6 separate regions of the Homo sapiens genome follow, and all the other regions are linked to region 1. Evidence: fine-mapped expression QTL. A gene starts in region 1. Each other region holds a variant in brackets. All regions are shown on one strand. Distances are between the middles of the regions. Region 1 holds the start of GOLM1 (golgi membrane protein 1). Region 2 holds the start of LOC101927623 (a long non-coding RNA gene). Region 3 has its middle 39 kb from the start of NAA35. Region 4 has its middle 21 kb from the start of NAA35. Region 5 overlaps GOLM1 (golgi membrane protein 1). Region 6 overlaps GOLM1 (golgi membrane protein 1).

Region 1 (5,073 bases):
ATGACTACACCCAGCCAAGTTATACAGATGGGGCAGCCCAAGACCTTGGGGGTCCAACTCCCACCCTAGTATGCTTAGAAGGTGAGATATAGTCAAGAAAGGCTATTCTGAGGCTTTGGGATTTAATGTTATTTTTTCCCTGTTGGGTTTTGGACTTACTTGGGACCAGTTACCCCTTTATCTTACATATTTCTCCCTTTGGGAATGTGAATACCTATACTGTGCCTGTGCCACCATTGTATTTTGGAAGTAAATAATTTGTTTTAATTTCACAGGCTCATTGCTGGAGGAATTTGTCTTAGGATGAATTGTGCCTTGAATCTTGCTCATATCTGATTTAGATGAGACTCTGGACTTTCTAGTTGGTGCTAGAGTGAAGACCTTAGGGCTGCCAGGTGCAGTGGCTCATGACTGTAGTCCCACCACTCTCGAAGGCTGAGGCAGGTGGATTGCTTGAGCCCAGGAGTTTGAGACCAGCCTGGGCCACATGTCAAAACCTCATCTCTACAAAAAATACCAAAAAAATTAGCTGAGCATGATGGCATACACCTGTAGTCCCAGTTACTCAGGAGGCTGAGGTGGGAGAATCACCTGAGCCCAGGAGGTTGAGGCTGTAGTGAGCCATGATCACACCACTGCACTTCTGCCGGGGGGACAGAGTGAAACCCTGTCTCAAAATAAATAAATAAATAAATAAATATTAAAGCCTTTAGGGCTGTTGGGATGGAATAAATGTATTTTGTATGTGAGAAGGATATGAACTGGGGGTGGTGGGGGGCATAGAAGCAGAATGCTATGGTTTGAATGTGTGCTCCATAAAGCACGTGTTGAAAACTGAATCTCCAGTGCAACAGTGTTGGGAGGTGGGGCCCAAAGGGAGGTGTTTAGGTCATAAAGGCTCCACTCTTATAAATAAATTAATGCCAATTATAGAGGGTTTGAGGCTGCAAGTTCAATTTCACATACACCCTCTTGCCCTTCTGCCTTCCACCACAGGCTGATGCAGCAAGAAGGCCCTTGCAAGATGCCAGCACCTTGATATTAGACTTCCTAGCCTTCAGAACTATGAGAAATACATTTCTTTTCTTTATAAATTACTGAGTCTGTGGAATTGTGTTATAGCAACACAAAATGGACTAAGACATTAAGGAAAGGATGCTTAACAGGCAAAACATGGATGCTTCCTTCAACCAACCACTGTAGCCCCTTGCACATTGTTTAATCAAAACCCATCCAATTGAATTTTCAGGGCCAGCAACTGATTAGCTTTTTTATAAGGAATGTAAATTATGTATATAGATATATATAAAACTGCATCTTAAAATTTTCAACTTTTGTCATAAAGAATCTAACGAAAAGGACTAATTCATCTTCAATTAAAATATAGCTCATTCAGCCAGCTGCCTTAGCACCTAGACATATGGACCTGTTCCATAAAGTGTTTAAGAATCACTGAGTGAGTCGCTAATTAGTTGCTGATAAATGAGAGACTAATGGAGACCCTCCTTAGAGCCAAATGATATAGAAGTTACAGTCCACCAGTCTAAGAATGTAAACTATACTAAGAGAGCTAAAATGGGCAAGAAAGGGAATTTCCTGTACCTGTCCCCGATTATGGTTATTTAAGCTCACTAGAAGATCAAAGTGACACAACTTAAGTCTGCAAAACCAGGGCTGACATCTGATACAGCCTCAGCTTCTGAATGCTTTGGTCTGACCCTACAACAGTTTAACAGTTGCAGATAACAAAAATATCATTTTGGAATATAGTAGAACATTCCTCTAAAGGGGTCATGTATGGTCAGCTTCTAATTCAGCTAAGAGGTTTTAGCTGGTAAAGATACGTTTCCTGCAGTTAAGAAGCTCCATGCTCAGGTAGCAATAGGGTATCTTGATCACCTTTTTTAAGGTGACTCTTTGTTCTGGTTAAAATCAATTTCAGCTGTGAGCATTCCTTTAGGTGTTCATGTATTTACTTGTTTTTTTATTGTGATTTGAGAGAGGCGCAGAGGAAGGAGTTTCCTTTCCCAGACACCAGAGCTAGGAAGACATGAAGACATGATTCTAGGAAAACTGTTCTCAATCTTGGCCGTATACTGTATTAGGATTATCTGGGAAGCTCAAAACAAACAAAAAATATCAAGTTCACTTTGAACTCTGGAAGTGGGACCCTGGTTCCTAAATGCTCTAAAAGCTCCCCAAATAATTCTAATGGATGGCAGGTGCTGCCAGAGTTAAGAACCATTGCTTTAGAATTTTCTAGCATGGTTTCCCTGTAGGTCACTAGTTTTGTGGCATTCTCTCCGGGAGGTACGGCCTCATAGGGCTTCTCAAACATCAGTGCGCCTGAGCGTCATCTGAGGCGCTGTTTCAAATGCAGCTGCCCGGGCTATAAGATCACACCCGAAGGCGTCCGGGAATCTTCACTTTTTCCGTTGCTAGCAGTGGAAGGGTCACAGACCAAACACTAAGGCCTGAGCGGTGACAACCGAGGCGAGATGATGGTCAACAGGGAATGCCTCGTGGGAGAAAAAAGACAATTTTGTGAGTATAAGCCCCCTAAAAACCTGTTTTTCGTTCGCTTCCTTCTCTGGGCAGTTTTGACCCGACGACTTTTATAAAGAAGGTAACGTGAGTGTGGCGCTGGGTGCGGTTGGCTGTTCGGGAACATTCCCTCGGGGCGGAACGTGGGATGGGGGCTCCCCCCAGGTACCCTTTCCCCACAGCCGCTTCCCCGCTCCGCGTCGCTGCTCAGGCGCCAGCTCCCGCGTCGGAAGGGGCGATGGGGTGGCCCGGGGGAAGGGGCAACGCCCAGCGGCGAGAACTGGGCGCACGCTGGCGTTCCTGCTCCCGCCGAGGGGCGGCCACCGGCCGGGGCGCGCGCACCGTGGGGCCGGGAGTCCGCGCGGCCCCGGCAGCCCCTGCCTCGCTTCTCCGCGCTCGCGGCGCCGCCTCCTCCCTTCGCGCCGCCGGCGCTGCTCGGGGGCGGGGCCTTGCCGCTGCGGAGGCCGGAGACGCGGCGGCGCTGGACGCGGAGGCGCTGGGCGCACGGCGCGGAGCCGGCCGGAGCTCGAGGCCGGCGGCGGCGGGAGAGCGACCCGGGCGGCCTCGTAGCGGGGCCCCGGATCCCCGAGTGGCGGCCGGAGCCTCGAAAAGAGGTGAGTGGGCGGCGCGCGGCCCCAGGCTGCCCGAACCGCGGTCCATCGCTTCCTCCCTCCTTTGCCCAGGGCCCGTACCCCGCGCGCCGAGACCTCGCGTCGGTCCCCGGAGCCTCCCCGCGGCTTGCGCCGGGGCTGCAACCTTCGCTGGCTGCGCTCGGGGCTGGCTCCGCACCTTCCTGCACCGAGTAGCCCGCGGCTGCCTGGGCCCCTCGGCTCGCTCCCCAAGACCGGGCGCGCGGCCCCCTTGCCCTGCGATGAGGGGCCTCGCGAGGATTCCCTGCCCTGCAGTCTCAGGCGATGCGGGGCCTGTCTTTTTGTTCTGAGCTTTGTCACGCGCGTCGGCATCCAAAGTCAAAAGCGTGCACCCCCTAAGTCGCACTAGTTCCAGTTCTGCAGCGTGATTTGCACCAGGCGCGGGAGGCTGGCCGAGCCGCGAGTCTCTCGGCTCCCGCCGCCTCTTCCTCCCCTCCAGCCCCAGGCGCGCTCCGGCCGCCCTGGGGTCCACGTTGCCGCTGGGCCTCGTGGCTGGTGACCCCGGAGCTTGGGCTCCGGGTCCTCCCGCCGCGCGTCCAGAGCGCGGCTGCATCCCGTTCTCGTGGATGCTCGGGGTTTTCTCGCATACCTGTGTTTCCACCTTTGCCAACGTGGAGGATCCACACAACTTTGCCCTGCTGTAAAAATCATATCCCATTTAATATTTTTAATGATTTGCTTTTAAGAAACAAAATGTGAAGAATAACAATTTTGATGAAATTTTTTAGCAAAATTTAAGAATTATTATATTTGAAATACCATGATGATGCTGGACAATTTCAGATGTCCCATAGCCAGATTTGCAAAACTAAACTTGTGTGACTTTCACGATTTTGAGGTTTTCTTTGTCTGATTTGGGGTCCCTAGGCCCTACATTATGCACATTATTGAGGAACATTTCTAGGGCTGGATTAGTGAGATACACAATAACCTGATGAAGTATTTAGCAGCGCTTGAGTGGCTTTGTTTAGCTCATGGCCATCAGGTTGGCTCAAATCTCAGTTTTAGTATTTCTGAATTTTGGAGGGCATGGGACAATCTCTTGTCAGTTTTTGTGGGTCTCCAAAGGCATCCTAGCTTCTTCCAGTTGTGTTATAAAAGATGAAGCTAAGCTCATTACTTTCTTTCTTAATAGAAACTAGTAACTTGCTAAGACTTACTGTTTTTAGGCCAGACACTCAATTCTTAAGGTGTCAGTGAACAAAAATTGAATTGTTAGGATGGTTAAAGAAAAGAGGTTAGCTTTTAAGATACATTTTGTTCTCCTATGGAGAGGTTATCCAATTTTCACATTTTTTTTTAAAGTTGGTTTTACAGGAAAACGAAAGAAATGAGAGGAAAGTAGTGCTGAGGGTGGGGCCAGGAAATTGTGGTGACTTGGATATTAAGGGCCAGGGATACCATCTGCTTTCTAATGGCTGGTTTAGGTCCAGTTATTGATGGGAAATGAAAAGATTTTGCATTTACATTCCACCCGCTGTTGTTGTTGTTGTTGAGGGCTGGGCAGAAACAACAGTTAGGACAGCTGACCATAGCAGGCCCAGGGCTACCCGGGTTTATATATATATGGCCACCTTCCCCAGGAAGGAGGGAACTGCTACCCTTATCCTGTGAAAGTGCGAGCTGGCTTTCTGCATTGGAAGTACAGAGGGCAGAACCTGGGGAAAATGCGTCTGCGTGGATCAGTAGGAAGGGTGGAGCATCACTTTAGGCAGGTGTGCTGAGAAGAAGACAGGTGTCAGTTGATGGGCACTATTGGTGGGAGGGAGCTTGAAGGCAGCGTGGTCCCTGAGGTCCAGCCGCCTTTCTCAAAGGACCTGGGGTGGCCATTGGGGGCGGGGGAGCGGTGTTCTGTGCCTTTGGCTTAAATTCTGCAGCA
Region 2 (5,068 bases), 28 kb before region 1:
AATCTCAGCTCACTGCAACCTCCACCTCCCGGATTCAAGCAATTCCCTGCCTCAGCCTCCCAAGTAGCTGTGATTACAGGCATCTGCCACCACGCCTGGATAATTTTTGTATTTTTAGTAAAGATGGGGTTTCACCATCTTGGCCAGGCTGGTCTTGAACTCCTGACCTCATGATCCACCCGCCTCAGCCTCCCAAAGTGCTGGGATTACAGGTGTGAGCCACTGCACCCAGCTGACCTTGAACAAATTACTTCTCTGTGCCTTTATTGTAGAAAACAACTTCTAGAATTGTTGCTAGGATTCAATGAGTTAACACACACATAGAACAGCTCCTAGCACATAATAAGCAGCTAAATACTTATTAGCTACTACTATAATTGGTACCAGCCATGTGACCTGGAGAGTGGGCTTCATTTCCTCATACCTCCCGGGGTCTGCCAGGTCAGATGCAATAATGGGTGTAAAAGACATTTATGTACTGTTAAGGTACATCACAAAATGTATAGTATCATCACCACAGATTTAGTTACTTCTAATGTTGATTGTTTACTGTCCCTACAGGTAAGCTTACAATGTAGGAATCTTTTTGTCTTCTGTCACTGATGCATCCTGACCTCCAAAAACAGTGCCTGGTACATAAAGCACTCAATAGAGAGTTGTTGAATTTCTTGAATGGATCAATAAATTAATGAACAACTAAATAAGTGATCCTGGCTGTCTGAGTCAGTTCAAATGGCCATAACAAAATATCACAGATTAGGTGGCTTAAGAAACAGAAATTTATTTCTTACTCTCCTGGAGGCTGAAGTCCAAAATCAAGGCACTGGCCATTTTGGTCCCTGGTGAGGGCTCTCTTCCTGGCTTGCAGGTGGCTGCCTTCTTTGTGTGTCCTTACATGGCAGAAAGACAGACAGAAAGAGAGAGGGACAGGGAGAGATAGTGAGGGCTGGTGTCTCTTCTTACAGGGGCACAAATCTCATCACTAGGGCCCCACTCTTATAACCTCTTTAACCTTAATTACTTCCTCAGAGGCCCTACCTCAAAATACTGTCACTTTAGACGTTAGGGTTTCAACATATGCATTTTGGGAGGACACAATTCAGTCCATAACACGGCATGAGTGCACACATAAATTTCCATAAACATAGAAACAAAAATTCCGTAAATTCACTGTGGCTTGTCACCTCTTGACATGAACTTCTCTGAGCTCTGGCCATCTCAGGATACCTGCACCACCACCATTAGCACCGTGGCCTTTGTCTTCTTCGCAAGGTGAGTCTCTCCCAGGTTCCCCTGACTGCAGCTCTAACAAGCCAATTGTCCAGTGTGACCAAGGAAGAAGAGTCTTGCAGATTTTAACCAAGAAAGGGAAGGTCCAGTTGGTCTTGTCAAAAGACAAAATTCCAACAAATATAGTTATAGATCTAATTGGCTTTTATTTGCAATTCATGAATCAGGGCAGCTTCCATTCTACAAAACAGCATGAGGGTTCCTGCTGGACAGCAGCAGAACAGTGGGTTTTGTAAGGTGAGAACAAGGAAATAGGAAAAAAAAAATTTTAAAGTCGGATTGGCTAACATGAGGTTACTTTTTGTGTAAAAATTAAAGCAGAGAGGACTTCCTTATTGCACTGACACAGGTAGACTGGAATCTTCTGTTCTCAAGAAAAACTAGTCTATGTTGGATCTATCTGCTTCCTTAAAGCTTCTATTTGATGACGAGGCATTTAGCATGAATGACTCCATTTTGGTTTGGTCTCGTCTGTTGGGGCCTAGTACAGGAGTTCAGTCCAAAATAACGGGCTCCCATAATTTTGTTTAACAGCCTAAACTTAAGTTCTTCAGTGATCTGAATCCTCAGCTAGACCAAAATCTTCTGCTAAGTTGCTCTCCTTTTGACTGTCTGGCTGAGCTGTTGAAGGCCACAAAATATTTAGCAGGTAAAAGTACTGTTCAGGAACTATAATAATTTATTTTGTATTCATGGTGCTTTTCTGGCTTATAGAACATTGTTAATAAGTTGCTGTAATGTGCGCTTATATTTATGAATTTATAAACATTATGAATAATGTGATGATTATTGAGAGGCATATTGCCAAATATCCATAAACTGATCATTAGTCTATCTATGTATTTATCATTGTATATAAATATGTCAGTTTTGTTTTCAGGGAAAAAACTGTTTGCAATCTATAACTTCCAGGGCTCTTATCTCTGAATTGAACATGTGCCTAGGGGTATCAAACAGAACAAGACTCCAGATAGTAAGTAAATAGTCCTTTTTCTTATGACAGCTACTTAATCTGTAACAAAACAAGCAAACATAAAAGCTAAGTGATATCTAAAGCTTACCACCAAGAAAATAAGTTAGCAACTGAACAAAGCGCCTTCCTTCAGGCTAGATCTTACATACACACACAGTATCGACTTCAAGCCACTTCAGAAGAGACTCAGAAAGCTGCTGCGCCTGGCCTTGCCCTTAGGTTTGTTAGCTTCAGGGTCACAGTCCCAGCGGGGAGCTGACCCATTAGTCACACCTGCTTCACAGCCCTGCCAGCACTCACGGGGCCCA[A/G]TGAGAAGCCACAGGCATGTTGGTAGCCAGGCCAGGAGACCCAAGGGCCACGCCCATAGTTCTACAGAGTCATGTTAACCGTGGTTGTTATGGAGACAGCCAGTGTTCTTCATGAATGTGTAGCTGTTTTGTCACTCTGCCTGGGTCCGGGGACAGGCTGGCTCGTTACAAAGGCACCCACTACTGAAGACAGGCTCAGAGGCAGGAGTGGCCCAGCCCTGCCTTGTAGATGCTGATTGAGCTCTGCTACAGAAAATGCTTGATACAAGACTGTGCACCCCACCCCCATCCCAAACATGACTTGACTCTTAAAACAGCCCTGTATAACCACAATTGGCTTGTTGCCCTTTTGTTGGCTGCACACACTGATTTTTCCACAACCTTCAAAACCCTTCCTGAAGGGTGTTGTGGAGCAAATCCCAGAAGATAAACACCGTGTGAATGAACCCAAACACAGAGGGCTGTGATTACAGACCCTAGAGCAGCCTTCGAAGTATGCAGTGTTCTTCCCTAAGGCACCACCTTCTCACTAACCAAAATGGGACTGACTGGTGCTGAGTCCCTCTCGCTTATTCTGCTGGGATGAAGCCTGCTGGATGCGAACTTTGTGCTGTGCTTTTTGTATTTGCTATTTGCAGAGCAGAACATTATTTTTTGGTGGAAGATAGAGATGTGGATATGTGAGTCCCTGCCCTCAATTAACTCATAATCTCTTGGACTCACATATTAACAATAAGAGGGTGGAATAGAAAAGCGGCTCCTAACTGATACAGGGTTAAGCCTGCGTAATGACAAATTTCAGAGCTGAACAAGCAGAGGACAAATCACTTAAATGCATGGCTTTAGAGCACTGAGGTCAGAACTACACAGCCACCAAAAAGAATGAGGCAAAGCCTGTGTGCTGATATGGAATAAGCCTAAAACACACCAGAGACTGACAAAGTAAGGAGCAGTACAGCCTGTGTGATGTGTTCCCTTTTGTGGAGAGGAGAGGGGGAGGAGGGGAGAGGCAGGGTGGGAAAATGCAGAGAATAAGCCCAGAGCATTCCTAGGAAACTGGCAACAGATTGTTTGTTTGTTTGTTTGTTTTGTTTTGAGACTGAATCTCACTCTGTTGCCCAGGCTGGAGTGCAGTGGTGCGATCTCGGCTCACTGCAATCTCCGCCTCCCAAGTTCAACCAATTCTCCTGTCTCAGCCTCCCGAGTAGCTGGGACTATAGGCGCATGCCACTATGTTCAGCTAATTTTTGTAGTTTTAGTAGTGACAGGGTTTCACCATATTGGTCAGGCTGGTCTCGAACTCCTGACCTCAGGTGATCCACCCGCCCCCGCCTCCCAGAGTGCTGGGATTACAGGCCTGAGCCACCGCACCCGACCCCCCCACCGCCTTTTTTTTAAAAAAAGCAACTTTGTTGGGGGTGTAACTGACAGACAATAAGCTGCACATATTTAAAGTATATAGTTTGATAGATGTATACACCAGCAAAACTATCATCTCAAAAAGTACACATCTTCATCCCCCTCAAAGTTTTCTTGGACCCCTTGGCAATGCCTCCCTCTTGATCTTCCCCACCCATTCCTCATTCCCTAGCCAACGCTCCAACACTGATATGCTTTCTTTCAATACAGATTAGTTGGTGTTTTCTAGAATTTTTTTTTTTTTTGAGATGGAGTCTCACTTTGTCACCCAGGCAGGAGTTCAGTAGTGCGATCTCAGCTCACTGCAACCTCTGCCTCCTGGGTTCGAGCGATTCTCCTGCCTCAGCCTCCTGAGTAGCTGGGATTACAAGCACGTGGCACCATGCCCGGATAATTTTTGTGTTTTTAGTAGAGACGGGGTTTCACTAATGTTGGCCAGGCTGGTCTCAAACTCCCGACCTTAGGTGATCCACCAGCTTATGCCCCGAAAAGTACTGGGATTACAGGCATGAGCCACCATGCCCAGCCTAGAATTTATATAAATGGAATTATACGATATTTGCTCTTTTTTGTCTGGCTTATCACACAATAATTATTTTGAGATTCATCCATGTTGTGTGTATCAATAGTTCCTTTCTTTTTAATGTTGAGTAATATTTTATTATACGGATATATCACAGTTTTGTAATATACATTTGCCCATTGATGAGCATTTGGGTGGTTTTCTGTTTTGGGCTATTACAAATAAAGCTGCTATAAACATCTGTATACATATTTTTGTATGGATTTATTTTTTCTTTTCTTTTGGTTAAATATCTAGGCTTGGCATGGCTAGGAATTCCTGTAGGTACATGTTTAACTGTTTAAGAAAATGCCAAATTCCTAGTTCTAGTAATTCCTTTGCAGAGGCAATCAGGTTTTCTGATGCAATTTCTAATGGAAAATCCAATCCAATTTTCCGATAGAAGGATCTGACAAATGCTCATGTGTGTAAAGAAAGATTGCTTTACTTGTTCTTTTCCAGTCTAGATGTCTTTTATTTATTTTTCTTGCCTGATTGCCCTGGAAAGAAGCTCTC
Region 3 (5,073 bases), 200 kb after region 1:
TTCTATGGGAAAAATCAGTTTCATGTTTGGTAGTTAATAGTTTCTCTTTTTAGCATGCATTGTAAATTTAGTATATATGACAAATTGAGCTGTCAAAAATATTCCCCTGGCCGGGCACGGTGGCTCATGCCTGTAATCCCAGCACTTTGGGAGGCTGAGGCGGGTGGATCACTTGAGGTCAGGAGTTCGAGACCAGCCTGGCCAACATGGTGAAACCACATCTCTACTAAAAATACAAAAATTAGCTGGGCAGTAGTGGCACGTGCCTGTAATCCCAGCTACTCGGGCAGCTGAGGCGGGAGAATCTCTTGAGCCTGGGAGGCGGAAGTTGCGGTGAACCGAGATAGCACCACTGCACTCCAGTTGGCGGTGACAGAGTGAGACCCTGTCTCCAAAAAAAAAAAAAAAAAATTCCTCTTTTTAAAAACACTTCAATCATTAAGGAATAAAGAAAAATATTATAGCTTATAGTACATAGCTAGCTCTTATACCTTCCTGATCAAAGGTAGAGGTAGCATAAGTTAATGAAAACAATATCCCATTCCTTAGTTTATTCATTAGTTCCAGCTTCTCTTCACTAAATCCATTATTGAACAGCCAATAAAATCATTCAGTTTATGTTTTACCATTTGTTAAAATTAGTCTAGGCTGATTTCCAACTGGAAAGGTACCTGGGTGTCTTTCCCATCTTGATTTTCTGCCTTAAACTTCCAGAAGAAAAGAAAAGTTTCTATACACATTGCATCCATGGAACAAAGGTTTCCCCACCTGCATCCCAGGCCTCTGTTTAGAATTCAAGAACTGTGTTACTACTGTGTTGGAGAAGATCATAGGACTGTATAGAGGTATGTTCCTAGGGGTAAAGCTACATGCCTTTGGGTGTATTCTTAGGTCGGCCAATTTATATCCTTGCCTTTAATCTTATCGCCCTTAGGGTTGACACTACCCTAAAAGTCAGGAAAGAAAACCTGGCTTAGAACTAGGAGTGCTATTCTACATTCAACATTCAAAAACTCTTCTGTTGGTCGTTGACTCACCAACATCCATTCATCCCCAGAAAACAGTCTAAATCAATTTTAGTAATCCTATTTCTCTCCCAAATTGGAATCATGAAAAATATTCCTGGGTTGCCAATGGCAGAATTGTGCTACTGAATCCACCAAGCCTGAAGCCTGCTCTGCCTCTTGGAGTTTGATTTATTGAAATAATGAACTTCTTTATTGTCTAAGCCAGTTTGAGTCAGTTTTTGTTACATACAGCAGAAAGTATCCTAACTCATGCAGCTCCACTAGGAAAGAAGTCCACTGTCATGATTCCAATTTACTAAGAAGGACATCAGAGTTCTGGTTCAGGGAGCATCTTTATCTAAATTATCTGAGACCAGTGCCCTCTGAGCCTCAGATGAACCAGTTTGTAACTTTTCGAGTACAGTCTACCTTGACTATGGCCCCTGGAGTTTCTAAAGGCTATTACCAGTTTTACTTATTCATGCTTTGGAACCCATTGAGTTTCTCCAGGGGTTCAAAGGTCCAGTGTGTTCCATTGTGGCATTTTCTTTAAAAATTCATGTCTAGGCCAGGCGCAGTGGCTCATGCCTATAATCCTAGCACTTTGGGAGGCCAAGGCGGGAGGATCACGAGGTCAGGAGTTTGAGACCAGCCTGGCCAACATAGTGAAACCCCGTCTCTACTAAAAATACAAAAATTAGCCAGGTGTGGTGGCACGTGCCTGTAGTCCCAGCTACTTTGGGAGGCTGAGGCAGGAGAATTGCTTGAACCTGGGAGGCAGAGGTTGTAGTGAGCCAAGACTGCGCCATTGCACTCCAGCCTGGGTGACAGAGCTAGAATCTGTCTTAAAAAAAAAAAAAAGTGATGTTTAGCAGCTTCAGTGCCCATAGATGCATGAGGCACTGGATTATCATACTTTTTCTAACCTAAGTCTGCAGACTTGTATATTATTTATAGTTGACTCTCTGTCCCCATAAACAAATGGAAATGAGATGTGCACTCCCTTCTGAGATCACATCTAGCTTGATAAGCAGACCTAAGGTATTTGAATTTATTTATTTATTTTTGAGATGGAGTCTCACTCTGTCGCCCAGGCTGGAGTGCAGTGGCACGATCTCGGCTCACTGCAACCTCCGCCTCCCAGGTTCAAACAATTTTCCTGCCTCAGCCTCCTGAGTAGCTGGGATTACAGGCACATGACACCACATCTGGCTAATTTTTAATATTTTTTTGTGGAGACAGGGTTTCACCATGTTGGCCAGGCTGGTCTCAAACTCCCGACCTCAGGTGATC[C/T]GCCCACCTTGGCCTCCCAAAGTGCTGGGATTACAGGCATGAGCCACTGTGCCCAGCCAGGTATTTGAATTTAAGCAAGGCATCTAACAAGGACTCTTATGCCAACTCAAGACGTCTCAAGGCCTTTCATGGACAAGTTGGAGAAATGTGAACTGGCTACACAGGCAAATTTATTAATGTTTAAAACTGCATACCTGCAGAATGTTGATTCATGGATCACGGTCAATTTAGAAAAAGTTCTCCAAAGCCTGCTCTGAAGCACAGTCATCAGATATGTTCTATTCAACGTTTTTATCAATGAATAAGATGAAAATATAGAAAGCATGCTTTTTGTATCATTTCCCTATGATACGAAATGGAAGAAAGTGACAATATGATGGCTTACTGAAGCAAAGTCTGAAAATAACTTAACAAGCTGGATCAATGAGCCAACTGTACAAGGAGCTGTTTTCATAAATGATATAAAAATATGGTGAAGATTATGTAAAAATTATTTTTTTAAACTAGGGATATATAAATAGAAAAATTGGTATCCATATTCCTATATCTGATGGACTGTCATATGAAATGAGAGAGAGATATTGTCTATGTCTCAATAAAGTAGGTCTAAGACAATTTTTTTGGCTCAATAATGAAGGGATTCTTTAACATTTGAAGACAAAGGAAAAGAAGAGAATTACCTGAAAAAAAAAGAAAAGAAAAGAATTACCTGAAGCCAGGTGCAGTGGCATATGCCTGTAGTCAACTTCTTGGGAGGCTGAGGTGAGAGGATTGATTGAGCCCAGGAATTTGAGTCTAGCCTGGGCAACATAGTGAGACCCTATCTAAACAAAATTTTCTGAATTAGGATCTGGTGATAAGTGAGATTGCTATGGTTTATAAATTCAAACCAAATCTGAGGGGCTATAGATATTTTGTTTTATAGATAACTTGGAGGAGATGAAATCTAAACTTTCTTTCCATGGGGTTTATTTTTTAAAACTAGCCTCTCATTCTTTGTGTTTTAATTGTAGCATTTAGTTGCTTTACATTTGCTATAACTATTGATATATTTGGTTTTAAATCTACCAAATTATTATGTGATGTACACTTGTTCTGCCTGTTCTATGCTCCTTTTTCTCTCCATTCTTGTCTCTTTTATATTGATCTTTTTTCTTTTCTTTCCTTTATTTTTTATTTTTTGGCAGAGTCTTGCTTTGCTGGCCAGGCTAGAGTGTGGTGGTGCGATCAAGTGATTCCTGCCTCAGCCTCCGAAGCAGCTGGGACTACAGGCACCTGCCATCATACCAGGCTAATTTTTGTATTTTTAGTAGAGACAGGATTTCACCATGTTGGCCAGGCTGGTCTCGAACTCCTGGCCTCAAGTGATCTGCCTGTCTCGGCCTCCCAAAGTGCTGGGATTACAGGTGTGAACCACTATGCCCAGCCGATAATTGATATTTTTAACAATTCTACTTTTAATCTCTATTTGCTAGGACATTATACAGCTTTTACTCTTCCTTTGGTCGTTGCCTTAGAGACTATAGCATGCAGATTTTTAGCAAGCGTTAGACTTGACAAAGTCTAATGTCAACTGGTATTTTTACCCTTTTCCAGTAGGAGGCTTTTAAGCCCTGTAACTCCATATACCTCCCTCCCAAATTATATACTGTTGTGGTCTTGTATCTATAAATATTTTAAACTGCACAATACATTATTTTTGTTTTATATAGTTAACTATTTATTTAGAGTTACTAGTTGCTATGCTCTAAGGTGTCCCTGATAATTTGTGTTGAAAACTCAAGTCTCAATTCAACAGTATTGGGAGGTGGGGCTTTTGGGGAAGAAGTAGGTGAATGGATTAATGGGTTTGTGGGAGTAGGTTCACTCTCTCTTGCCCTTCCGTCTTCTGCCATGTGAGGGCGCAGCAAGAAGCCTCTCAGCCCCTTGATCTTGAAATTCTCAGCCTCCACAAGCATGAGGAAATAAATTTCTGTTCTTTATAAATTACCCAGTCGGAAATATTCTGTTATACCAGCACAAATGAACGAAGACCCTAGCATAATTATTATTTTATTGCTTCGTCTTTCTTCCTCTATTTCTGACCTTCTGCGTGGGTTCATTTTCCTTTTAGCTGAACACCTTTTAATACTTGTAGTATGGGCTTGCTGGGGATGAATTCTCACTCTATTTTTTTCTTGAAATCCTTATTTCTACGTCATTTCTAAAGAGTATTTTCACTATTTATAGATGCTTGCTAAGTCACTATGGCAGTTATTTTCCTTCAGGACATTGAAAATGCCATGTTATTGTCTTCTGGCTTCCATTGCTTCTACTGAGAAGTAAGCTATCATTTCAGTTGTTGTTCCTTTTAAGATGATCTGTCTTTTTTTCCTCTGGCTGACATTTTTGTTTTAGACTAATTAGAGATCTGAAGTGATTTTACCTTTATTTCCTTCAGTTTAAGCCAATTATGAAATTTCACAGTGATTTCTGATGTAGGGGCAGAAGGAAGGCCGTGTTAAGAATCATCGGGACGGCCGGGTGTGTTGGCTCACGCCTGTAATTCCAGCACTTTCGGAGGCTGAGGCGGGTGGATCATGAGGTCAGGAGTTCAAGACCAGCCTGGCCAAGATGGTGAAACCCCGTCTCTCCTAAAAATACAAAAAATTAGCTGGGCGTGGTGGCGTGGGCCTGTAGTCCCAGCTACTCAGGAGGCTGAGGCAGGAGAATCTCTTGAATCCGGGAGGCAGAGCTTGCAGTGAGCCGAGATTGCGCCACTGCACTCCAGCCC
Region 4 (5,073 bases), 180 kb after region 1:
GGAGGTGTCTGGGTCATGGAGGCAAGTCCCTCATGAAATGGCTTGGTGCCATCTTCATGGTAATGAGTGAGTTCGATCAATAGATAGATAGGTAGATAGATAGACAGACGGACAGACAGACAGATAGATGATAGATAGATAGATACAGAGAGATAGATGCTCTATCTATCTCTCTAGGCTGACACACATTCACTCAAACTGATGCTCCCTTCTCTTTCAAGTCACTAGATGGAAGAAACAATTTCCTATCCTGATCAGTGTGGATCGGGTGTGACTTGGTGTGTCACACAAAACAGCAAACATCACTTGACTTCTACCTTGATTTCTGAACAGCACACAAATGAAAAAGGAAGGAATGAAGTAGCTTAGGGCAGGAGAAGATGAGAAAGACATCACAGTTTTAAGGTGAACTCATACCTCTTACATTTTAGTAAAGAGGCATTACTTATTACTATGGCTTTTAGATTAAATAGTGAATATTTGTTTATAAATTAATTTTTCCATGGGTCTACTGGACTAGGAGCCATGAAAGCAGAGCTTTTCAAACCCAAGAGTGCATCAGAATCACCTGAATGGCTTGTTAATATGTCCTGCTCCTTCTTCCCCAGATCCTGATTCAGCAGGTCCAGGGTGAGGCCCATGACTTTACACTTCTAACAAGCTGCTAGGCAATGGCTTGCTTCAGACCACACCTCAGCCCTATGCTAGAAGGCAGAATCCACCTATACCTCAACGAGTCACACATTTAATCAGTACACAACATATTCAAGACCCTACATTAGCTACTTAGAAAAAAGGGACATAATTGGTTTTTAACAGGTTCATAGTCTTGTAGAAGCAAAAATGTAAAGAATTTCTGTCTTTTGTCAACTTTAAATTTATTAGAAAACTCAAATAGGATAAAGATGAGCTATAAAATCAATAGAATTTTGACACCAAGAAGACATTTACATCCAAACCCAAGACATTTTTAATAAATGTGCTCCCTTCTTACATCAGCAAGGGTCAGTTTCTGTCATTTATAACCAGGAACCACGGAGTCTCTTTCCTTATTTTGAGGTGTGACTGAAATGGAAAGAATTTCAGTTTCTTCCATTTAGGGAAAGGTAATAATATGGGGAAGATAATAATAGCACCCATTTTTTAGCATAATTGGAAAGATGAAATAAGATCATATATAGAAAGCTTGAAATATAAAGAATTTATTTTAACAATGTCTGGCACATAATAGATGCCTAAATCTTAGCACTTGGAGCTGATTGTATGGGAAAGGGGAAGCGAGAGATTATAGCTGCTGGTGGAATTTTAAAGAATCCCTTGGCCAGGCGCAGTGGCTCATGCCTGTAATCCTAGCACATTGGCAGGCCAGGGTGGGCGGATCACTTGAGGTCAGGAGTTCGAGACCAGCCTGGCTAACATGGCAAAACCCTGTCTCTACTAAAAATACAAAAATTAGCCAGGCATAGTGGCAGGTGCCTGTAATCCCAGTTACTTGTGAGGCTGAGCCATGAGAATCGCTTGAACCTGGGAAGTGGAGGTTGCAGTGAGCTGAGATTGTGCCACTACACTCCAGCCTGGGCAACAGAGCAAGACCCTGTCTCAAAAAACAATAATAATAATATAAATAAATAAATAGTCACCTACCTGAGGCTGTGGGTGCACTCACTGATGTCCACAACAGCAAGTGGATAAGGGGACAAAATGTACTGTGTCAGACAGAGGTATAAAGAGTTCCCCCAAAGAAAGAGGTGGAAAGCACAACTCGAAAATTCAGCCACAAAACTTAGCAGACAAAAGAAAACAGAAAAACACAAAAAGAAAGTAAAATATGTATTCTGGACAACTCCTGGAAACACTGCTAACTGCAGCCTATTCCTGAGCACCAAATGCAAATTGGAATGGCACTGGGTTGCCTGCTTTTAAAAGCCATGCACAAGATCAGGCAAAGTGGCTCACACCTATAATCTCAGCACTTTGGGAGGTCGAGGCAAGCAGATTGCTTGAGCACAGGAGTTCGAGACCAGTCTGGGCAACATGGCAAAACCCTGTCTCTACAAAAAATACAAAAATTATTTGGGGCATGGTGGCACAAATATGTAGTCCCGACTACTTGTGAAACTGAGATGGGAGCATCGCTTGAGCCCAGGAGGTTGAGGCTGCAGTGAGCCGTGATCGCACCCTGAAACTCCAGCCTGGGTGACAGAGTAAGACTTGATATCGTTAAAAAAAAAAAAA[G/AG]AGGCATACACCACATGAACTGAATAGATCCATAATCAAGAGGCGAAACTGGCAGAAATTATGTTTTGTGTGTGTGTGCGTGTGTGTGTTTTTTGGTTTTTTTTTGAGACGGAGTCTCGCTCTGTCACCCAGGCTGAAGTGCAGTGGTGCGATCTCGGCTCACTGCAACCTCCACCTCCTGGGTTCAAGTGATTCTCCTGCCTCAGCCTCCTGAGTACCTGGGACTACAGGCACGTGCCACCACACCCGGCTAATTTTTTATATTTTTAGTAGAGCAAGGTTTCACCGTGTTAGCCAGGATGGTCTTGATCTCCTGACCTTGTGATCCACCTGCTTCGGCCTCCCAAAGTGCTGGGATTATAGGCGTGAGCCACCGCGCCCGGCCTGGAAATTACGTTTAATCACCCAATGTAATTGTTTCTGCTTTCAAAGCCTTTGTTTCTACATAAGCAGTGGTTCTCAACCTTGACTGTAGATTAGAATCACCTAGAGAGCCCACCTCCAGAGACTCTGATTTAACTGCTCAGGATGCAGGCAAGGCATAGGCTTCTCCAGTGATTCTCATATCCAGCCAAAGTTGAGAACCAACTGTCAAAGTCTTTATAAATATCCCATGCTCAGTTTCTATGAAGAAAAAACAAAGATTTTATTTCAAAGAATTCATTATTCCACTATTCAAAAATTTCTAAGTAGGTGTTCAAAATCACCCTCATATTGAGGCTATAAAAGAGTCAAAAGAGAATTTGTTAGGAAGGTTTCTTTGGAAACAGTTGTTCTTTGACTCTCATTCCTAGAATGGAGAGAGAGAGAATATCTGCCCCTTCACCTTAGTTAAGAGAGAGAGGCTTCAGCAGTACTACTTAGAGAGTTTTATATTCATTCTACTAGCCAGGGAGACACAGTGGACTGGTATCTGACCACTGGAAAATTGTGAAGGCAGAGGTAGACTCACTAACTACTCCAGTGCTGGAAAGCAAGAAGTTAGCTGCTTTGGGATGGGCCTGTACTTCCAGTTGGTCAGGGCAATGGATGCCTATGCCGACTGCTCAGGGCAGCCCTGGAGGCTGATTCCCTGTGTCCTTTCAGTAGCCTGGTAAAGAGCTGGCTCACCAGATCTGAGTTCACTCAATAGGAAAACAGGCTAAAACATGAAAACTGATCTCAGAAGTTGCTTCTTTCTAATAAAGCCTGTTTGCAATCAGAGGTTGTCCATCACTACAAAGGCACGTAGATGATCCTTGTCTCTATTTTCCTACGAATATGGAATGTAGGTGGAAGTAGAGCTCTTCATTATGGGACCATGGCCCCACTGAGTCCAGCCCACCCACAATCAGTCCAAGCATCATTCCTGGAGGACTCATGACAGTAGGAACTGTCAACTATGCACATTTCTGCTTATCCATTTCTCCCAATAAATGTTATTTTATATTTGTACCATGTGGCATTGATGGAGTGCATGTATTCATGCTACCTTTGCAAAATGACCACTAAGGAGAAAGAGCTAATCTGGTGCCTTTTAAGTCCCAAGAAGGGCTGCCTGGGGGAGCCACAGGATCTTAACAGAAAAAGTCTGTGAGTGCCTCCCGAGTAGAGTCAGTCAAAGGACTAGGGGCTAAGAGGGGAGCAGCAAGTCAGAGGAAACTCCAGTTCCCCTATCAGGAAAACACCATTGAGCATTCCCAACAGAATCCTCTGAATACTCCCACCCCAAACATTATCAGCTCTAAACACTTATTAGGTCCAGAGAACACCATCTTACAATACCAGTCATCATGTTCCTAACGCTTTTTACCTCCTCTGCCTCCCCATTCTTAGAGGAAATCATACTTAGCAACATAGATGGAGTGGAAGGTGAGCATAGAGAAAAGAAACATCACAGTCCCTCCCCTGGTTCCTGCCTGTAGAAGGTTCCATCAAGGGAAGGAGAAAGATTTTAACTTAATTTAAATGCAAAGATTTTATAATAACTTAACATAGTGTACTTTTAGTTACTGAAATAAGACTGTGTTTTTGTTCAATGTCACCAAGATATTTTTATTTCCTGAAAGTAAGAGAAATGTCATGGGAATGCGTACATTTTCAAGTTGGAACAGAAGGTACTTTCCCACTAAATAAATTTAAAGGGAGCAGAAGTCAAGAAAGAATTAGAGAAAGAAAGAGAAGGAAAGAAGGAAGAGAGAGAGAGGGGAGAGGGAGGAAGGAAGGAAGGAAGGAAGGAAAGAAAGAAAGAAAGAAAGAAAGAAAGAAAGAAAGAAAGAAAGAAAGAAAGAAAGACAGAAAGAAAGAAAGAAAGAAAGGTGTTTTCTGATTACATTCTTTGAATCAAGTTTTTCTAGTTTCCCTAAATATTTCACGAATATTTTGCATTATCTGATATTCTAAGTTTTACACCCATCAGATCAGAAAAACTTAGAATATCAGATAATGCTAAATATTGGTGCGAATGTAGGAAAATGGAACCCTCCTACTCTGCAGGGAGCGTCATACAGCCACACCCATTTTGGAGAGTAGCCTGAGAGTACTTATTTGTATATGTGTACTATGTCTACTACGACCAAACAATCCATATTGAGTACACCCAGAGGAACATGCACACGGGTCCCAAAGGGGATATGTACAAGGATGTTCATTGCAGCGTTGTTAGGGGTGACCAGCAATTGTTGGGAATGAATAAAAGACAGCCTCGCTTCCAGCTTCCATATGGAAAGCACTCAGGGAGTAGAGTGATCGAGCTGTTGAATCAGGCAATCTGCAGTATCCACACAACACGTAAGTCCAGTTTAAACTGCAATTTTTAAGATCACACAAGAATATCTAAAGAATCTTAGTGGACACCTA
Region 5 (5,073 bases), 35 kb after region 1:
TGGTGGTGCATGCCTGTAATCCCAGCTACTTGGGAGGCTAAGGCAGGAGAATGACTTGAACCTGGGAGGCAGAGGTTGCAGTGAGCTGAGACCATGCCAAGCACTCTAGCCTGGGTGACAGCGAGACTCCATCTAAATAATAATAATAATAGTAATAATAATAATTTGGGTCTGAAGACTTCCAAAGATCCTGGGTCCCCTCTTGGCTAACTGCTGTTCAGTGGCCAGTAGTGGCCACAAAGGCTTGGGGGTGGCATCACCTGCCCTCTGAAATGCTTGGGGAAGAGTCTGGGAGACCCTGAATTACTTACTAGCACTTCGTGAAGGGAAAGGCACATCTTCCTGCTATTGTGTTCATTTTTGCTTGCCAAAAGTTCAGTCACAAATAGCTTCATTTTCAGCATTTGCACTTGTAACATTCTCGCTCGGCTGGTTTCTCGCAGCTGCACATCCACTTTGACATTTATACTTTTTACTTATTTGTTAAAATATGTGCATTAATATTGCAGAGGTGCAAAGGTAATGTTTTAGCAACAGTTCCTTTGTCATGAAAATAGAGTTCTTGTATCTTTCCTGAAGGGGAGCAACTGAGTTAAAACAAAAAGATTGCTGAGTGGAAGAACAGAGGTGTTGGTGACTTGCTTATCGTTTTGTGTCCAGAAGAAGAAAAGCTTAAAGAGGCAGTGGGAAAGTGCAGGGGGCGCTCAGCCTCACTGTTGTCATGCTTGCCTGTGTGACCTGTACCCATGTCCAGGTGGTTTCAGGGAGCTGCCCGGTTTCTCCTCTTGCACAGTAACTTGGGGTACGAGGAGGCTCTGAGGTGTTTACAGTGCTTTTCTCTTGTAAAGAGCTGGTTCATGGAGTGCGTTCTTGAGTGTCTTCTGAGCCTGGGATGGGGTCACTTCCCTCAAATACAACAGCATTTGTTTATGAGTGACTTTTGCTGAAAGATTTTGCCTCTTCAAAATAAAATAATTAACAAGTCTGGTCATTGGTCCTACTTGAGAGTTTCAGAGTGCTTTTGTAACATGAACATATTTATTTATTTTCTGGAGACAGAGTCTCACTGTGTCACCCAGGCTGGAGTACAGTGGCGTAATCTTGGCTCACTGCAACCTCCGCCTCCCGGGTTCATATGATTCTCCTGCCTCAGCCTCCCGAGTAGCTGGGATTACAGGCAGGTGCCACCACGCCTGGCTTATTTTTGTATTTTTAGTAGAGATGGGGTTTCACCATGTTGGCCAGGCTGGTCTTGAACTTCTGACCTCGTGATCTACCCTCCTCAGCCTCCCAAAGTGCTGGGGTTACAGGTGTGTGCCACCGCACCCAGCCCGACATGAACATATTTAATTTCTAACTTCATTTCTTTAGGAGACAGTCATTCTTGTCGCTTGAGACAGAGGGGAAGAGAGTGAGAGCCAGAGAGGTCATGGAAGGCTCCCGGCACCTGAGAGTGGCCGGCGTGGGGCTGCCGGGGGCTGCCAGGTCTGCTCGTCACACTGGCCCCACCAGACTGCATTCTCCTGTGGCCAGATGCAATTCTCAGAGGGTTCTGGTGTCTTCTCTCTGGGCCAGCTTTGCTTGTGCACCTGCGAATGTAATGATTGTCTTCTGGGGGAACCAAAGCGATCTTGTGCAGATAAAAGTGGTGTCTTTGATTTTTATCACCTTTAATCGCTGTGATTGATGAATCCAGAGTTCTAGAGCAGCTTTTCTGTTTTTATTCTCACCGATTTTCCGGGTCCAGTTCTGTCAGTCCGTTCAGTATTTGTTCTGTTCTGCCCTGGCCTGTGCCCAGTGGTGGGGAGGCTGTGTTCATTGCACATTTACCATTGAGTGCTGGACAAAGATGAGGAAGTGAGTGTAGTGGGGTCAGTGTAGACAGAGAAACCACCCAGATATTTTAAGCAGGAAGGATTTGATACAGGGAAATAGATACTGTAAGCTGTGGGAAGGGCCTGCATTGAGGTGGGGTGGCTCTCAGGCACTATCTCAGGACCTGCCCCTGTGCCCAGCGTAGAGCGTGAGACCAGCGGGGTTCTGCTGCAGTG[C/T]AGGCCCAGAGTCAGGGGCACCCCACTTTCTCTGTTCTGCACCTCCCACACCCTCACTCTGTTCCACATTCTAGCCTCCAGTAAGTGCATCTGATTGGAGGCAGAATCCCACTGGAAATGATTCTGGAAGGTGCATTTTAGCTTCCGAGCCTTTGTGGTTCAGGAAAGCACAGCAAAAGGCGTGTGGAACCGACGTGGAGGAGCCGATCTGCTGCATCCCCCACCAGGCAGGCGGCTCAAGGGCCATGGGAGTCAGCAGCGCTGTCCCCCACAGTGTCTAACCTGGAAGGGTGCCTAGGGAACTGCGAGTGGCTGGGCCCGAGCAGAGTGTGATGTTGGGGTGCAGGAGTTTGGACTTGAGTTTGAAGGAGTTTGGACTTGAGTTCAAGACCGGGGAAGCCGTCATAGGGTTTAAGCTGTGATGGAGCAGTGTGGTCAGATGTGGGATTTAAAAGGCAGGCCCTGGCCATGTGGGGAGAGGGCTGGGTGGGGAGCAGGGCAGAGAGGAGGCAGCACAGTGAGGCAGCTCTTGAAATACTTGGAGTAAAAAGTGATGTTGCACTGAATTTGGGCAGGAGTAGGATGAGCTCTGCAAAGTGAGCAGATTTGGGAGGCAGCCAAGAGGAGGGATCAACAGGCCCCGTGACAGATGGGATAGGTGCGGGAAAGTGTGAATTGAGCAGAATGGAAGCAGGTCAGTAAAATCCATTGAAAATTTGCTGCCCTGAAAATAAAAGTGTTTGTCTCAGAAGACTTCTAGTCTTTTTAGATTGGAAATTCTCCAGTTTGTCAATTGGATTCAACCTTCAAATACAGGTTTATAATTAAACTCAAGTAATTTGCTTCCCACACTTAAAAATACATTTGTAGGAGAAGCAGCAAACATGCCATTCAGGTAGATGTCCTTCACTGCAGACTGTGCCTCAGTGGGTGTCCTAGTGCTGGGTCCTCACCTCCCACCTCCAGGGAGGGGCCTGAGCCTGTCATGGGATGTCCTGGACCTCAGGAGAAGACTCAGATGCCTATTTGATTCAGGACGTGGTTTGATTTTTAAACATGCCATGGACAAGTTCCACATGGAAAGCATTGTCGTGCAATGTGAGGTTGCCCACGATGGTTAGCGGCTGACCAGACGAGGCATGGATTTCATGTGCATTGATCTCTGTTCCTAATGGGACAGAACCAAATCCTGCAGGTGTCCTCGCTCTTGGCCTTGGCTTCATACGCACTAGAAAGAGCGTTGGCGTGTTTGATTGCCATAGAAGGCGTAACGGAGGCTTTGGGTTTTGCTGTTGTGGTTGGCTTTTGTCTTGTTCTCTCTTCACACAGAAAATTGCTTGAGTGACTTGGAATTGACTCCGTTTACCTTCTGTAATTCTTAACCCAACCCAAGACAGGCGTTTGATGGGAAATACGTAAAGAAAATAGGAGGTAGCTGTTTTTTCACTTACCGTCTCTGGCAGGGATCTGCAGTCATTCATGTTTAAGAACAAACAGTAAGTAGGGTCTGTTAGGTGCCTTGACTGTGACGCTGTAACCTGTACACTTGGTTCAGTTTTAGTTTCTCTTTCATCCCCAAAGGTCTGTGTACGCCTTTTTACCTGTCTGCAGAAAGTCAGAATGTACAAAAGTGTCTCCTCTTCCGCAGGTGGGAGCAGGGAAGCTGCTAGGATTCCCGTTTGAAAATGGAAACCCCCAGTGCCCTCAGGTGGCTCAGCCCTGGGGTGCCCATTGAGATTGGGAGTCTGCAGCCCCAGGCCTCCAGCCCTTGCACAGGGCATTTCCTGGCTGGTTAAAGAACAGCCAGGGAACGAATATCCAGATTGCTGGTGCTGTGTTGTAATCCGGCATTCTTCTTCCTCTAAAAACGGAGCTGGAGCTTTTCAAGCCCCCGCTCCTGGGTCAAGCCCTGTTGGCAGTGTGTGGGGTGCTCCTCTGGTTCGGCAGCTCCTCCCCTGCCATCTCCTTAAGTGTTCAGGAGTGAGAGCAGCGGGAAGAGCTGAGGGGCAGCTTGGGTGGTGCTGCAGAGGGGACAGACCAGTGTGAGCTGCTTCAGGGGCAGCCAGGTTCCCTGGCAGCTGGGTGATGAGGAGACCTTCAGAAAGATCCAGGGTCAGGGACTAAGAAGACAGGCGCTCGTCCACTGCTAGAGAAGCCTCAAAGTGCATTCTGGGGTTCCCACTGTCCTTCAGGTTTGGATCCTCCTGGAAGTTTTATTTGACCCAAGTCACGTGTAGGTTAGAGGCACAGGGGCAGGCTGCTACCAAAGGAGACAGTGTAGCAGGTTCTCAGAGGCAAGGGCAGCCCCCCCCGTTTGCTTCTCCTCCTTTTTCCTTCCTCCTGCCTCCCCTCCCTCCATCCTTCCTCTTCCTTTCTGTCCCTCCACCCCTCTCCCTTCCTTTGTCCTTTTCCTCCCTCCATCCTCCTCTTGCCCTCCTCCCCTCCAGACCCTGTCTCTCTCCTCTTCCTTCCATCCCTTTCCTCCATCCTACTCTGTCCTCTTTTCTTCCCTCCTCCTCTCCCTCCATTCTCCCTCCTCCTCTTCCTCCCTCCTCCCCCGTCCTCCCTTCCCTCTGTCCTCCTTTCTCTCCCTCTCCTCACCATCCTTTGCTCTCTCCTTCCTCCCCTTCCCCTCCTCCCCATCCTCTCTCCTCCCTCCCCAAAGCACCTGCAGTGTGCCCTGTGCAGGAGATGCTGGGGGAGGGTGTGAGCCAGTCTTGGGTTCAGGCCCCCTCGCCATCAACCCTGTGCTTATGTCTGTGATGGCCACCACACCTCATGGACCTTGTTCTGCCAAGCTGGGCACCCGGGTGACCCCAGGGCGGGTCCTGGGAGCATCCTGCACTCTCCCAGCGAGGTGCTTTCCCACACCCGCCAAGCTGCAAGGTGGATGGGGTGGGAGGATGTTACCTTCCCTGTGACAACACAGGGATGTGTTGGCAGGAGCTATTCTGGGCGTGTAGCAACTGTGTCTGTGTGTCCTACGTGTTTTCCTGGATAGATGGTGTTTTCTGAAGCTTTG
Region 6 (5,073 bases), 22 kb after region 1:
TGCTCTCGTTTGGCATGGAGTGAATGCCTTGTTTCCACCTCAAATCCTAAGATGGAACACATTTTTCCTGGTGACTTCAGGCAGATGGCACACCTCCCACTTCCGTTGTGTGTCATGAAGGAGGAGACACTTCTATAGCCAGGGCTGTGCCTGAATAATGATGTACATGGGGGGGAGTTCACATTCACCTCCAGAATGGGTTTCCTGCTTTGCTTGAGAAATGCTTTAATTGGGTGTCATTAGTAATCCTGTCAAGGGTAAAAAAAACCTCCCTTGTTAGGAATCAAAGCAAAAAGCTCTCTCTGAGGAGTAATGAGGAATATACTCTTTCTAATATGATGCGGAAGCACTTAATATTTGTTATTGGTGTTTACAGAAATGATTACTTCTCAAACATTGCTGCTTACAGAAATGATTAATTCTCAAACTATGCCGGGAAGGTGAGTATGGTAATGATTTTACAAGGGAGGAATCTGAAGTGTAAGAGGAATCATGTCTTGCCCCAGGTCTCGAGCTAATCTGTGGCAGGTTTCGGGGCGGTGCCTGCTCCTCCGAGCCTGTCCTGGGAACTGGCCACACTGCCCTGGGTTCACAGCACCATGGGCTCTGTGCGTGCCGTTCACATACTCTTCTCCCTTGACAGCTTTGCACGTCAAGGAGAAGCTACCAGCCCACGCTTCTTGGCAAGACTCCTTTCCTCTTGGTTGTAAGGATGATACGGTCTGCTTCGGAGATGATAAAACTAGTATTGATGTTTATTTATTTGCTTTTACTTGGCAGATTCTCAGCGCTGATTTTGAGATGATGGGCTTGGGAAACGGGCGTCGCAGCATGAAGTCGCCGCCCCTCGTGCTGGCCGCCCTGGTGGCCTGCATCATCGTCTTGGGCTTCAACTACTGGATTGCGAGCTCCCGGAGCGTGGACCTCCAGGTGTTTTGTTTTCTTTATTGTTATGTTTATTTTATGTTTATGTTTTGTTTATTTTGTTATGATGGGGTCCCAGGGGTTTGTTGTTTATTGCCAGCCAGGGCGTTTTGTGCAGGGCACACGCTTGTAAGGTGAGTTTAGGGCTCTGCACACCCCCACAGCCCTGGGCCAGACCCCAAGCAGCTTTGGGTGGGAGAGGTCCCCTCTGTGGTTGTGTAGGATTGCGGTTGTGGTATCCCTCCCTGCCTTTCCTGTGAGTTAACAGCATTCATTTGAGCTACTGGGGTGGTTCTGGGAAGACAGCTTGCTTACATACACTGGCCATAGTCCGTTGTTTGCGGTCCTCCGGCGCCCAAGATATCGAAGAGTAGTATTGGAAGTGTGCTTGGATGATGGGTGTAAGAAATATGTTTTTAAAGGTACCAATCTTTATCTTCATTACTTAATGATAATAATAATTTTAACTTCCTCATTTACCGGTGCAGTCATGGGTCAGGTGCAGTGCTGAGCAGTGACAAAGATGCTCCTCTTGATTGAACTTGAGTCGGGCCCTTCTGAGCCGTCTTCTTGACTAGGCCTTGATCTTGGCACCTCCCAACTCTCACTGCCTGTCTTTGGCCTGCCCAGCCCAGTCCTAGCAAAGGATCCCGCTAAGCCATCCTTCTACCCCTGATCCTTGACCAAGTTCCTCATCCCTACCCTTGCTGTCTAAGTCCTTGGCCTGTGTTTAGCAAGAATCTTGTTAGGCCAGTTTAGCAAGAATCCCCCTACTCTGGGGGCGATTTCCATCCACTGACTCCCCGCACTGTGCTCGTTGGCTATAAATCCCTAGCTGTCTTTGATGTGTTCGGCATTGAGCACAATTTCCCTCTCCTATTGCAATCGTTTTGAATAGTCTTTCTTACCATTTTAATGAATGTCAGAATAATTTCTCTTTCACAGTACTTTATACAAATTATCTCCTTTTGTGCACAAACCCTACAAGGCTGGGACTTGACTTTCCTCATTTCACAGGGGGTCAGACTGAGGCACCAAGAGGTTGAGGTGGAGCAGGGATTCCAACCTGCATGGGCTTAGCCGTGGCACCCCAGCACGTCTGTGCTCTGTCCTGTTCTCACACTTACCCTCCTGGGCTTGTACTCCCTGTGTCTCAGCTTCCACGGGAGTTCCTGTTCTCTGGGCAGATGAGGTCTGCTTGTCTGGAGTTGGAGAACTGAATCTGTTTTCAGAAATTGTATCTGCTAAAGAGTTGTTAAGTGCTTTGTTAGCAGCGAAGAAGAACTAAATATTTGAGCATCATCT[T/C]ATGCCAGGTAAAGCATGAGGCATTCTGTGCACTTAGCACATTTAAGCCTCACAAAAACCCAGTGGGAAGTGTGGTGTGAGTGCACAGAGCCTTCCTTCACTTACACTGACAGAGACCATTTTTTCCAGAAGAAACCGCTCCAGCTTCTGTCCAGTTGACTTAAAACACAGCCTTGGGCACTTGTGTGTATAAGACTGGTGCTGGCCCTGGGCCCCAAGGTGGTCTTTGTGGAGGGCGCTCAGGTGGTCCAGGCTCCTCAGGTAACTTGGCATCAGCCCTAATGCCACGGTCTCCTTGTAGACACGGATCATGGAGCTGGAAGGCAGGGTCCGCAGGGCGGCTGCAGAGAGAGGCGCCGTGGAGCTGAAGAAGAACGAGTTCCAGGGAGAGCTGGAGAAGCAGCGGGAGCAGCTTGACAAAATCCAGTCCAGCCACAACTTCCAGCTGGAGAGCGTCAACAAGCTGTACCAGGACGAAAAGGCAAGGCCTGCTTTGTTTCCTCTCAGTTCTTTTCTAAGGGATGGTGTCTACATTGTCTGTTTCTTCTTGGCGGGAGGATGAGCAAGCGGCTGGGTTTAGATTTATGTAATTATGTGGAAAGAGCCTATTGATCAAGCTTTGGGCATTCTCTCCCTTTCCCCTCCAAGTCCCTGGCTGGGCTTGCGGTGAAGCCTTTTGCAGTGGTAATAAACAGGAGAAATGCAGAAGAACAATTTCAGATTCATCCTCCTATTGGCTTTTTTTTTTCTCCTATTGGGTTTTTTCTTCCCACTTTCCACAAACATGTATTAAATACCTACTCTGTGCCAGGCCTATGCCAGGTGCTTATATCTCAGAGAAAAATAATATTTGTGCCCTCCAAGTATCTAATGGAGGAGAGGAGAGGCAGACTCTACTAAATACTAACAGAGAAAGTAGGGGACTGCACCCTTGCTTTTAAGCTAGGAAAAAAACCAACAAATCCTGCGTAGATTTAAAGGGGCCTTCCTGCTAATTAAAATATCTAAGCTTTATGTGTCTTTTTTTTTTTTTTTGAGATGGAGTTTGGCTCTGTCGCCCAGGCTGGAGTGCAATGGTGCAATCTTGGCTCACTCTGCCTCCCGGGTTCAAGCGATTCTCCTGCCTCAGCCTCCTGAGTAGCTGCGATTACAGGTGCCTGCCACCACGCCCAGCTAATTTTTATATTTTTAGTAGAGATGGGGTTTTCACCATTTTGGCCAGGATGGTTTCGATCTCTTGACCTCGTGATCCACCTGCCTCAGCCTCCCAGAGTGCTAGGATTACAGGCATGAGCCACCGTGCCCGGCCTGGTTTTCTTATGTAGGAATATATGACTATACTTTCTTTATTAAATTGTGTAACTGTGTGAGTTACTAATATCTCCTGTCCCAGAGTGCATCAAACTTTGGCCTCTATTATTAACTAGAAAAATTTGGCTTTTTTTTTTTTTTTTTTTTTTTTTTTTTTTTTGAGATGGGGTTTCCCTCTTGTTGTCCAGGCTGGAGTGCAATGGCGCCCTCTTGGCTCACTGCAACCTCTGCTTCCCGGGTTCAAGCAATTCTCCTGCCTCAGCCTCCCAAGTAGCTGGGACTACAGGCATGTGCCACCACGCCCAGCTAATTTTTTGTATTTTTTAGTAGTGATGGGATTTCGCCATGTTGGTCAGGTTGGTCTCGAACTCCTGACCTCAGGTGATGTACCCGTCTTGGCCTCCCAAAGTGCTGAGATTACAGGCATGAGCCACCGCACCTGGCCTGAAAAATTTGGCTTTTATAATGCGTGTACCTCTCTCTCTGGAGTGGCTAATTTATTGGAAGAATGTTGTAGCTCAACTTCCATTATCTTGAATTGTCTCAGAAAATGAATTATTTCCAGGAAGGGACTCAGACTTTTCTCGCATAACTGATTTAAAATTCAAGAAGTACTTTTTTTGTTGTTTAATTTGCAGAGTACTTTCCTATATTTGCAAGCTCATATTTCTTCTCTGGGAATTGTGCATAATGTTGTTGTAATAAAGTGCTTCTTTATGTTTCTTCCCTTTTCTTACTGGTGAGATATGCTTTTTGTGCTCCTGAAATCCCCTTTAACCTCATCTCTCAAAAAGAAAAAGAAAAAAAAGAGCATCAAGTAGTTATTTGAAAAGAGAATCTGTTTCCACAGTTTTTCTCTTTTAGAATATGCGATATAAATGTCTTTTCATTTTGGTGAGCAAGGGTGGGTTCTCACATCAAACCTTAGCTGCAGGAGGATTTTAGCTGTGGTTTGGTGGTAGGAGGCATGGAACTTGTGAGTCAGGCAGACCCGGGTTTAAAGTTCCCTCAGCTGTGTGATTTTAGGCAAGTCACTTAAATTCTCTGGATCTGTTTTCTCAACTGTCAAGTGGAAATGAGAAAGGAATCTCACAGGGTGCCTGTGAGGATTGAATGAGATAATATTTATAAAGCGTTTAACCCAGTGCTCAACCTAGAATGAAAGCTCAGCAGCTGGTGGTTGGTATTATTACACCTAATTGTACCAACGGCAGTCGAGGCCATGATCACAGCAGCAGTGGTGGGCGCAGTCGTAAGCCACCGCAGCAGCGGTGATAATGTTATCTCTTTCTGTATGGACTTTGTCTTAGTCTGTTTAAGGCTGCTATAACAAAATATCATAAACTGAGCAGCGTATAAACAACAAGTATTTATTCTCACAGGTCTGGAGGCTGGGAAGTCAGAGATCAAGACGGGGCAGATTCATCTGGTGAGGGCCCACTTCCAGGTTCATGGATGCCTTCTTCTTGCGGTGTCCTTGCCTGGTGGAAGGGGCAAGGCAGCTCTCTGGGGCCTCTTTTATGGCACTAATCC

What was found. PIP is the estimated chance that this variant, and not a neighbour inherited with it, causes the effect.
Region 2: its variant is fine-mapped to the expression of GOLM1 in whole blood (TOPMed, PIP 0.91).
Region 3: its variant is fine-mapped to the expression of GOLM1 in gastroesophageal junction (GTEx, PIP 0.98).
Region 4: its variant is fine-mapped to the expression of GOLM1 in whole blood (INTERVAL, PIP above 0.99).
Region 5: its variant is fine-mapped to the expression of GOLM1 in whole blood (TOPMed, PIP above 0.99).
Region 6: its variant is fine-mapped to the expression of GOLM1 in whole blood (TOPMed, PIP above 0.99).

The regions. Positions count from the first base shown.
Region 1 is chr9:86,097,496-86,102,568 of GRCh38, reverse strand. GOLM1 (golgi membrane protein 1) reads left to right here and starts at 3,011. Exons shown (of 10, transcript NM_016548.4): 1 at 3,011-3,158. RefSeq lists silencers at 2,800-3,119, 3,130-3,229, 3,390-3,439 and an enhancer at 3,070-3,570.
Region 2 is chr9:86,125,052-86,130,119 of GRCh38, reverse strand. LOC101927623 (a long non-coding RNA gene) reads right to left here and starts at 2,580. Exons shown (of 5, transcript NR_110996.1): 1 at 1,039-2,580; 2 at 792-890. The variant A/G (reference allele first, on the strand shown) is at 2,572.
Region 3 is chr9:85,899,826-85,904,898 of GRCh38, reverse strand. It overlaps the pseudogene PHB1P7. Among named protein-coding and RNA genes, the nearest start is that of NAA35, 39 kb to the left of the region's middle. The variant C/T (reference allele first, on the strand shown) is at 2,301.
Region 4 is chr9:85,917,626-85,922,698 of GRCh38, reverse strand. No RefSeq gene overlaps it. Among named protein-coding and RNA genes, the nearest start is that of NAA35, 21 kb to the left of the region's middle. The variant G/AG (reference allele first, on the strand shown) is at 2,236.
Region 5 is chr9:86,062,019-86,067,091 of GRCh38, reverse strand. The region is part of intron 3 of GOLM1 (golgi membrane protein 1); the gene reads left to right. Among named protein-coding and RNA genes, the nearest start is that of GOLM1, 35 kb to the left of the region's middle. RefSeq lists enhancers at 758-1,758, 1,759-2,259, 3,492-4,408. The variant C/T (reference allele first, on the strand shown) is at 2,052.
Region 6 is chr9:86,075,049-86,080,121 of GRCh38, reverse strand. GOLM1 (golgi membrane protein 1) reads left to right here. Exons shown (of 10, transcript NM_016548.4): 2 at 781-930; 3 at 2,531-2,710. The coding sequence starts at 802. Among named protein-coding and RNA genes, the nearest start is that of GOLM1, 22 kb to the left of the region's middle. RefSeq lists an enhancer at 40-1,239. The variant T/C (reference allele first, on the strand shown) is at 2,230.